Linked DNA regions of Homo sapiens. The protein of the gene in region 1 purifies or fractionates together with the protein of each later gene. This does not show direct contact. Each region holds a gene or a part of one and is shown on either strand. Other genes may lie near its edges.

Region 1 (3,218 bases):
GTCATCTGGGTGACAGACTGATGTGGTCTGAGCTGCCTCCCTGGAGCACAGGACTTGGGTGCAGTGGCAGAGTTGGAGATCAAAGAGAAATGTTACCAAAATTGTAACAGGTGAAGCCACAGTTAAGTACAGTTACTGAAGTTCTCCCATCCTACTAATTTGAAAGCCATAGAAGGCATTTCAGATTTCACAAGAAGGAGCTTAGGTGAGTATATTAGGACCCTGGTCAAAAAGCCAGGCTGCAATCACCTGCAGTTTTTGTTGATTAATTTACCTACATGGAGTAAGTAGGCCTCATCTGATGTAGGTAATCTTCAGCAAGGGGACCTCAGGTTTTATGAGACTGTTGCTGCAGACTGATTGTGTGTTGACTTAAGACAGTTGTTCCTTAAGCTCTTTTTCAATTTAGCCTGTTTTCTCTTTCCATATTGCTATTCATAATATTTGGGGTTTGATATGAAGGGATTCCGGCTATTCAGTGACTTGTATGCGTCTTGAAAAAGTAGATTCTTATGGCTAGGGAATTTTAAAGGTAAAGGAAGCTGCACCATAAAATTTCCTTCTTCAAATAAAGTAGATCTGAAATGTTGGCCTAGATATGCTCCCATCCCAGATTCCCGATTCACGTTTAATTTTCAGAAGCCCTTTGACTTTTAATTACTATACTAACAATCATGTGATGATCCTTGACCACAGTTTGACTAGGCAACATACAAAATAGGGAATGAAGGAGCTGCAGTCCTTAATCCCTGCAAGGTTATGGGGATATATTTATGTCTGGAGAAAGATGCTTCATGTATAATCTATGGCATATGCAATATATGCATAGATATATTCAAGGCATTTAGTTATAAATGTACAGGCTTTAATTCCTTCAGTCATTTGCTCCTTGTACCTTTATAGAGATAACAGCTTTTGGGTATCTCTATGCATGTACACGGAGAAAATGACTGTGTAAAATAGTTATTTTACATAGACTAAATTTACATTACTAAATTTTATGTAAAATGACAAGACTTTCAGAGGAGGTGCATTCAATTGAATGGCTTTGATTTGAAAGGGCTGCTTTTAAAAATCCTTTAGGCTTTGGACCTGGTCATCTCATTCAGCTTTTTCTTATTTATACTGTTGTTTTAAACCTACGCTAGCACGCAATTCTAGAATTACAATAACTTTAGGTATCCAGGCAAGATACCTAGTATGTTGTAGGAAGTGGGACTGTAAGAGGCTAGAAAGAGGTGGAAGGAGGCGGGGACTTGGCTTGTAGGCGTTGGCGGTGGTTGTTTTTTGTTTTTTGTTTTTTTGCTTTTTTAATATTGCTTCTAAATCCCTGAGTGACGTTAGAGGCACTGGTTTGATGTTTATGGGCCTAATGATTGCTGCATTTCTTGCAGGTGAAGATATGGTTTCAGAACAAACGCTCTAAGTTTAAGAAACTGCTGAAGCAGGGCAGTAATCCTCATGAGAGCGACCCCCTCCAGGGCTCGGCGGCCCTGTCGCCACGCTCGCCAGCGCTGCCTCCAGTCTGGGACGTTTCTGCCTCGGCCAAGGGTGTCAGTATGCCCCCCAACAGCTACATGCCTGGCTATTCTCACTGGTACTCCTCTCCACACCAGGACACGATGCAGAGACCACAGATGATGTGAGTTGCCCAAGGGAACACCCTAGGGAAACGTCTGAACAAGGAAAAGAGGATCCGGGACCTGCTTGTATCTGCGAAAAGGAGCCAAAGGAGCAGGCTTAGGAGAGCTCATAAGTGTGGCAAGAAGCCGACTAGGCTCATTCTCTCTCCCTCTCTCTCTCTCTCCCTCTCCTTTCTTTTTACTTCTTCCTTTCCTCCATTCCTTCTTTCTTTCCTTTTCCTTTCTACCTTTCTTTTCTTTTTGCCTTTCACCTTTTTTCTCATTTACCTTCTCTCTTGAGCAACGTCAGTAATTGATCTTGCATCTCAGAGAGAGAGAAAGAGCATGTGTGAGAGAGAAACTGGTTTCTATGCCAGCACTCCTGAAACCCCTTACTGTAAGGATATTTTCTCTTACCCCTTGGGATCCAGGCTCTGAGTCTCTTCTCTTTGGGAGTATCCATCAAAATGACTTTTTTTAAAAACAGATTTTCCCCCAACCAGAAGAATCTGCACAAACTTGGCAGCGTTTTTACTTGTTTAATGAGTTTAAGACATTACATGGTGAAAGAGAAGCATTTTGGACTCCTGCATTTTTATTTACCATTCCCAGACTGACGAGAAAAAGAAAATTCCTCACATAACAGCCCTTCTCTAAAGAAAAAGGAAAAAGTGGCTGTAAGATTAGAACATTGCTACAAAGGGAATGCTGCATGTTTTATCAAAATGCAATGACCAGGAATGATGGTTGATTAAAAAAAAACAAAACAAAAACCACTCTTTCCCCACCCCACCCCCCCAAACCCTGAACTGGAATCAGGAAAGACGGAGGAAACAATCAAAATCACCATTCTATTGCTTTGACACCTTTACTAGGTGAATTGGTGGCATTCACAAAGCTAATAGGGACGTTTATATCAAGAAACATTTCTGTATATATTGTTGAATTTTAGTTGTACATATACTTTGTATGTTTTTGTCTTCTTTCATATATGGAGTAAAAGCCACAAAACGCTGAGTGTCTTGTATATTTCTCTCTCTGTGTGTCTCTGTCCCTCTCTTTCCTCCCTCCTCCCTCACTTCCCTTCCCCCCATTAAATTTTCTATCACCCTTAAAAAAATTCCTATTTCCTAATATGGGAAGTCATATGTATATATATGAACATCAAGTGCCTGCAAAGATGTCAGTTTGCACACTAGCCTTTGTCTTAGGTAGTTTAACATTAACCATGGATGTTCTTTCAACTTTCTTTACATATTACGTTTTTATTGTAATTTCTACACATTTACCTATGTTTTAAACATTAGAATGACCTATCCTCAAGTTAACTTCTAGACATCACAGTAGTTTCTAGTGCTGAAACTGAGTATTCTCCTTTCCCTTTTCCCAGCCAAAATAATACAGCCATATTTGTCTTTGTTTGGATGCAGTTTTTTAAAATATAGGAAAGAAAAAAATAGAGAGTAGAGTGCACAATTATGCCTACTTAATGTTTAAAACCCATTGCCAGCTAGCTAGGTAGGAAAATGCACTATGCTGGATGAAATACATCCTTCCGATCTTGGGGAAAGCACAGAAATAATGAAAATGAAAAGT
Region 2 (3,500 bases), on another chromosome or scaffold:
GACTTAGCATAAACTTTATTGGTTTGGGTTCTCTTGGCTATTCTGGAGTGGGGCTGAGGCAGGTGCTAAGTGAAGGGCAGAATCCAGTCCTGAGCTGGGTGTGGTCAGAGTCACCGAGACCTGGGGAGAGTGGGGAAAGGAGAAGAAGGTTGTTATGGACTTGGAGTCGGCCAAGCACATTTATCCTGGGACCCAACCATTGTTGAACCCCTCCTACCTTCAAATCACCTTTTTAAATATTTTAATTTTTATCAATTTACTTTTTTTTTTTTTTTTGAGACGGAGTCTCGCTCTGTCGCCCAGGCTGGAGTGCAGTGGCGCGATCTCGGCTCACCGCAAGCTCCACCTCCTGGGTTCACGCCATTCTCCTGCCTCAGCCTCCCGAGTAGCTGGGACTACAGGCGCCCGCCTCCACGCCCAGCTAATTTTTTGTATTTTTAATAGAGACAGGGTTTCACTGTGTTAGCCAGGATGGTCTCGATCTCCTGACCTCATGATCCACCCTCCTCGGCCTCCCAAAGTCCTGGGATTACAGGCATGAGCCACCATACCCGGCCTCATTTTACTTATTTTTTAAGAGACAGTCTCACTGTGGTGCCCAAGCTGGAGTGCAGTGACTGTTTACAGATGTGATCATAGATCACTGCAGTCTTGAACTCCTGGCCTCAAGCAATGCTCCCACCTTTGCCTCATCAAATCACCATTTTAATGATAAGTAATCAAAATAATTCACAATATCCACCTTCTTACGGAGATTTTCTTACACCCTCTTCTCCATGGATCTGCTCACACTCCTGTCCCTTCTTCCCCTCCTGAGGTTCCTGTCCCAGATTTGCTCCCTCAATCCCTCCCTAGCTGCTCAGCATCAATGTCTGAAGTGTTTTGGTTTCCGTGCCTCTGTGTCTGCATCATGAGGGTCCTGTCTCACCCTTTAGGTGGACAGGTGTCTTCATAATATTTAGTGCCTCGATTCTGGGACATAAGGAATGGACTGAAGAATTTTCTAGCTGATGAGGGGGATTCAAGAGACCATTGAAGCCAGCAGTGGCCACAGAGGAAGGAAACATGCCTCTAACTATGTAGTTTCCCATCACCAGGAAGGTGCCATGGCCCAAGGGTACAGAGGGAAAGCTGAGAACAGGATGGGCTCAGCTCTGTGTGTAGGGACAGGCAGGACACAGGATGGGCTCAGCTCGGTGGGTAGGGACAGGCGGGACACAGGATGGGCTCAGCTCGGTGGGTAGGGACAGGCAGGCCACAGGATGGGCTCAGCTCTGTGTGTAGGGACAGGCAGGCCACAGGATGGGCTCAGCTCGGTGGGTAGGGACAGGCAGGCCACAGGATGGGCTCAGCTCGGTGGGTAGGGACAGGCGGGACACAGGATGGGCTCAGCTCGGTGGGTAGGGACAGGCAGGCCACAGGATGGGCTCAGCTCGGTGGGTAGGGACAGGCGGGCCACAGGATGGGCTCAGCTCTGTGTGTAGGGACAGGCGGGACACAGGATGGGCTCAGCTCGGTGGGTAGGGACAGGCGGGACACAGGATGGGCTCAGCTCGGTGGGTAGGGACAGGCAGGCCACAGGATGGGCTCAGCTCGGTGGGTAGGGACAGGCGGGACATAGGATGGGCTCAGCTCTGTGTGTAGGGACAGGCAGGCCACAGGATGGGCTCAGCTCGGTGGGTAGGGACAGGCGGGACACAGGATGGGCTCAGCTCTGTGTGTAGGGACAGGCGGGACACAGGATGGGCTCAGCTCGGTGGGTAGGGACAGGCGGGACACAGGATGGGCTCAGCTCTGTGTGTAGGGACAGGCAGGCCACAGGATGGGCTCAGCTCTGTGTGTAGGGACAGGCGGGACACAGGATGGGCTCAGCTCGGTGGGTAGGGACAGGCGGGGCATAGGATGGGCTCTGGGTGGGTAGAGACAGGCAGGTAGGGATAGGCAGGGGAGAGCATCACCTCGCCTGGAAGAGTGAGGAAGAAGAACAAATAGTAATCAGAGCTACTAACCTTGCTGAGCTCTTATTACTCCTCAAAGATGGCCCTCAGGTCTCCACTTGAATTGTCTTTTTTTTCTTTTGTTTTTTTTCTTTGTATTTTTCCACTTGCATTCTCTTACTTAAAGCTGACAACAATCCTGTGAAATGATTCTATACCTCTGATTTTAGTGAAAACACTGAGGTTCAGAAAGGCTATGTAATCAGCCAGCATGTGGAGGGGCAAAGATCTGAATCCATGTCTGATGCCCAAGCTCAAGTTAGAACCGCTGTGCAACACCACACTCCCCTACCTGAGCCTGCAGAGGTTTGTCTGATCCAGCAAGCAGGCCAACAGCTCTTGAATCAGCAAGTCCCGCAGCAAATCTTCATCGCTGGGGTTCTTGGCTGGGGAGCTGCAAGGGAACAGTCTCTGGCTAACTATTTTAGCCTGAGCTTCGCCCAGAGAGGGTAAACACAGGGTTGGGGACACCACTGAGGGGCAGCCGCGGATGGGGGGAGGGAGCCGACACAGCTATCTCTCCGTTGGCTCAGCTCTGAGATCTGGAGCCTCCTTTCTGCCAGCCCCACCCAGCGCTGCCTGCCTGGGGAATATGGACTCTTCATACAGGGAGAGTCAAACAGAATTCTGGTATGAGATATTCTGCCCATCCACCTCTGCCAGTGTTCCAGAATGCAGAGAGTACTTTGGGCACATTCACTCTTTGAAATGACCTGTGCCATTCAGAGAGGGGATAACTGATTTCAGGGGAGTGGGCCTGGGAAGATCCCCCGCTCTTTCACAAACAGTCTTCCCGAGGTTTGGCAGGGAGAGGTGGTGAGGCCAGGACCTGAGGTCTCTTCTTTCCTGCCCTTCTCCTGACTCAGTGACTGTGCTGTGCATGCAGTCATCAATATTAGAAACCCTGTCCCTGAAACCCCTCCTAGCACCCCTCCCGTTTCTCCAAGGCTTCTTCCTTAAGCTTGGGCTGACCTCCAGGAGTTTGCTCAATGAAGACCCCTCTTTGAACTCTGAGAGGAAGAGGATGCTTATCTCAGGTCCTTGCTCTGCTCTGGGGTCAGGGAGAGGGAACAAAGAGGTGGGGGCGGGGCAGGAGGCTTGGCTCCCTCCCTTCCCTCTGCGCCCTGACTCACCTCTGTGGCTCCACTGCCTCCTCCTCCTTCCTATTAGCTTGACTGGCCAGCTCCAGCGCCCGAGCCTCCCTCTGGGTGATGTTGTGTTTCCAGCTGGGAAGATAAAGATTAGAGAGTGGGCAAGCTGCGGAGACTCCAGTCTAGGGACACTTGAATCTTTTAATATCTGAACCCCAAAAGCAGAGGGTACCTTTTTCCACTCAACCCCACCTAACAGTGGTCTTCAGCTGCCTCCACCAGTGAACAGCTTTTCAGAATCTACCGTGCTGACCAGAGAGGGCGGGGAAAGAGACTTGGCATAGAGCAGGGAGAAGGACGAGGACAGTTAATCTTCTCTTCATTTTTTTTGGTGTGTGTGTGAGAGACAGGG
Region 3 (3,730 bases), on another chromosome or scaffold:
CCAGACTGGAGTACAGTGGTGCGATCCCAGCTCACCGCAATCTCTACCTCCCAGGTTCAACTGATTCTCCTGCCTCAGCCTCCCGAGTAGCTGGGATTACAGGCATGCATCACCACGCCCGGCTAAATTTTTTGTATTTTTAATGGAGACAGGGTTTCCCATGTTGGCCAGGCTGGTCGTGAACTCCTGGCCTCAAGGGATCCACCCACCTCGGCCTCCCAAAATGCTGGGATTACAAGCGTGAGCCACCGCGCCCAGCCCACTTGTTCTCTTTTAAGTGATGATGCATATTTCTAGTTCCATCTTCACTTTGTGAATTCTGCTTGGTTAGATCTGCCACATGGTTGATACCAGGCCCTTGGACTGAATCACAGCCTTCAGTGATAACCTTGGCCATATAGGAGAGTATACTCAAGAGTAGGGCCAACTTGGGTTTTTTCTTTCATTTCCTTTTCCTACTGGACAAAGGGAAAATACCCTTGTGTCTTTGCAGGCATGTGGTATACTCACAGATTTTCTCAGCTTTCATTTAACACGACCACATCCATTATAAGGAGAAATTTTGCTTTTTTTTTTTGAGACAGAGTTTCGCTTTGTCACCCAGGCTGGAGTGCAGTGGTGTGATCTCAGCTCACTGCAACCTCCACCTCTCAGGGGTTCAAGCAGTTCTCCTGCCTCAGCCTCCCAAGTAGCTGGGACTACAGGTGCCCGCTACCACGCCTGGCTAATTTTTGTATTTTTAGTAGAGGTGGGGTTTCACCATGTTGGCCAGGCTGGTCTCGAACTCCTGACCTCAAATGATCCACCCACCTCGGCCTCCCAAAGTGCTGGGATTACAGGCATGAGCTACCGCTTCCGGCCGGAATTTTGCTTTATTTGTTTTTCAAATAAATGTTGTTCCCTGTGATTTCATAGAATTAAAAATAATTTTAAGACTAATCTTTTTAGAAGAAACTACTATGATAAGCCTCATGAATATAGTAAGTAATGGGGTTCCTGTCCAGAGAAGGGAGAAAGGCTTCTTCTTCCATTGGTCAGGATAAGAGTTAAATATTTTAAAGAAGATTGGAAAACAGAATCATATCTTGTCTTCTCTTAACCTACAGGGAGCTGAGCGGAAAATCAGGGATGAAGAACGAAAGCAAAGCAAAAGAAAAGGCAAGTGTCCTGACCCCAGCTCCCAGGTGAATGCCTGTAAGTAGAAATGTTCCCGGCAAGCTTCAGACCTTTTCCATTGAGAATGGTGGCTGGAGTTTGCACGCAGAAGACAGTGGGTGTTCTTCCTGTTCTGCAGTGTGGCACTGCCTCTTCCTCAGATCAGCAGCAGATGCCAGCTCAGCGGGAGGGGTTTTCCTGGGGACTACAGGATAGATCCCTGGGTTTTCCCGACCTCAGCGTTTTTGGCTCTCAGTTCTAGTTCAGACTTCTGTTTCCAGTCTTGAAAAATGACAACACGTTCTGCATGAATCACTGTTAAAATTGGGACTTATCTAGATTTTTTAAAGTAATAATAATGGTCTTGAGAATTCAAGATGTCTTAACTCCAAGTAAGATCATATTTTGTATCTAAAGTATAGTATTTTAATATTTGCAGAATCTATAGGGCTTCTGTTTGGACATTTCACCAGGAAGGCTTTGTTTTCTTTTTTTTTTAATTGTGACCAGTATTCATATTCACAAAATCTTGTATCTAAAATGAAGAAAGTGCTGTTCTGTGCCTGTAGGGTTCCATCTGTAGTACATGGGCTTCTGGCAGCTCTTTTGAATGGTCTGTCTGGCTCAGCAGACATTTGCCCTGCAACACCTTAGTCAGGATTCTCCTACTGGTATCAAAGTACAAACTCCCAGTGACACTTCAGAGAGCAGCTGACTAACTAGGAGACCTCATTACTGAGTACTTCAGGGCCAGCCAGATCATTGGGGAAGATGGAGTCTCTAACTTACTAAATTAAAAATTGGATGGGCATGCTTACACTTCACCTCATTGTCGAGTTTCTTGATATGTTCTGAAGTCAATGGGTCCATGAGTGTTGGAATGTAAATTATTTAATGAGGACAGCTGAGGTGAAATTTCTTCCAAATTATGTTTACACAATTATACATTTTAGCCTTTCCAATGAAAACTAAATACGCTCTGCCTCTGTCGCAAATCTTCTGTGGATATGCGTCTGTGTGTGTTTGAAGATACCTTTTCCCTTTTGATTTGATAAGACATTCAGTTGATTTTAGTGGAAATACACACAACAAATTCCTTTACATAAACTGGGATTCTTAGGCAGGCAGCGTGCCCTGTTGTATCTTACAGAGTGCTACACTTGGAGTATCTTACTCAGAGGCGAGCACTCTGTGGCCTGCATCCAGTCTGTATGTAATCCTTTGACCTTGGCTTCCTCTTTTTTAATTTTTTTTTTTTTCAGTTTCTGATGTTAAAGTGCCACTGCTTCCCTCTCACAAGCGAATGGATATCACAGTTTTCAAACCCTTCATTGATCTCGATACTCAGCCTGTCCTCTTCATTCCTGACGTGCACTTTGCCAACTTGCAGCGGGGCACTCATGTAGGTAACCAGGATCCCAGGGGAGGTTACCAGGAAGGAAGGCATGGCAAAAGGAAATTCTTTGGCATTATTCATGGGAAACAGAAGCCAAAATTGAGTGAGGTTTGACCAGTTAGTCAGCTCTTTGGAATATTCTGCTGGGGTGACATGATGCCCGTGCAATAAAAATGGTAAGCATCGCTGATTTCAAGGTGCAGTGCAGCCTGTCAGCTTTATTCTGTTTGTATTCATTCATTCATTCGTTCGTTCTTCATACCTACATATCCTAGCTCATTTAAAAGATTCTAGAATAGTAGCATAATTTGGAGTTTGAGCCTGTCATCTTTTTAAACTTAACTTGGGGCAATACCTAGGTTAAGGAGCTCTTATAACATAAGAACATCCGAAGGCTTTTCTCACAGTTCCAGTTACTGAGCCGTCCTTGCCACGTGTAGTTACCAATGGCCATGTCTTGGCAACTAAAACTAAATTTTAAAAAATGGTCACGCCCTGTTTTGTGGCAAAGGCTTACAAGGGATAGAAACTTCAGTAGAATGAAGCATGGTTTTATGCTGAGTGCAAATAAATATCAAAAAGACAGTCTTTCATGCACTTTGTGGACAGATTTATAAGGACTAAAGATTCGTCAGAGTTCTTGGGGCCATGGCCAGTACATTTAGTTTCTAATGGGAAGCTGGAGGTGAGCAGGGGTTAGCACACTGTTTTTGTGAAGGGCTGGGCCGTAAAGGTTTTCAGCTTTTGGGGCCCCGTGGTCTCCACTGTGCTGCTCAGTGCTGCCGAACTAGTGCACACATGGCCATAAGCAGCATGTGAATGAATGAGCGTGGCTTTGTTTCAGTAAAGACTTTATTTACATGAACTGGCTTTAGACCAGATTTGGCCCAACCACTGAGTTAAAGGAGTTCAAGACATCTGTAAGAATCTGTTATTGAAAACTAAGGCTAAAGGATTTTATATTAGATTGGTGAAATTCAAAATTATTTCCATTTTAGGAATAATTCATTTATGGCCAAACATTTTGAGCATACATTTGAAAAGCAATCTATTCCTTTGGTCTTAGGTCCTTCCCATTGCCTCTGAAGAATTGGAGGGTGAAGGGTAAGATTTATGTTTTGTTTTGTTTTGTTTTAATAATGGAAATGATTTCAAACTTGTAGAAAAACTGCAAGTACA

The links.
Region 2: the proteins of DLX6 (region 1) and GIP purify together in Homo sapiens (affinity purification with mass spectrometry; one large-scale study listed by BioGRID and IntAct). This does not show direct contact.
Region 3: the proteins of DLX6 (region 1) and GRHL1 purify together in Homo sapiens (co-immunoprecipitation; one large-scale study listed by IntAct). This does not show direct contact.

What each region holds. Positions count from the first base shown.
Region 1 is NC_000007.14:97,008,402-97,011,619, forward strand, and holds the end of DLX6 (homeobox protein DLX-6), read left to right. Parts: intron 1-1,394; coding exon 1,395-1,646; 3' UTR 1,647-2,639; downstream 2,640-3,218.
Region 2 is NC_000017.11:48,958,597-48,962,096, forward strand, and holds part of GIP (gastric inhibitory polypeptide preproprotein), read right to left. Parts: intron 3,224-3,500; coding exon 3,131-3,223; intron 2,392-3,130; coding exon 2,290-2,391; intron 121-2,289; coding exon 111-120; 3' UTR 1-110. UniProt on the Homo sapiens protein: Potent stimulator of insulin secretion and relatively poor inhibitor of gastric acid secretion.
Region 3 is NC_000002.12:9,989,590-9,993,319, forward strand, and holds part of GRHL1 (grainyhead-like protein 1 homolog), read left to right. Parts: intron 1-1,106; coding exon 1,107-1,158; coding exon of another isoform or gene 1,159-1,194; intron 1,195-2,417; coding exon 2,418-2,557; exon of another isoform or gene 2,558-2,727; intron 2,728-3,385; exon of another isoform or gene 3,386-3,617; coding exon 3,618-3,655; exon of another isoform or gene 3,656-3,730. UniProt on the Homo sapiens protein: Transcription factor involved in epithelial development. Binds directly to the consensus DNA sequence 5'-AACCGGTT-3'.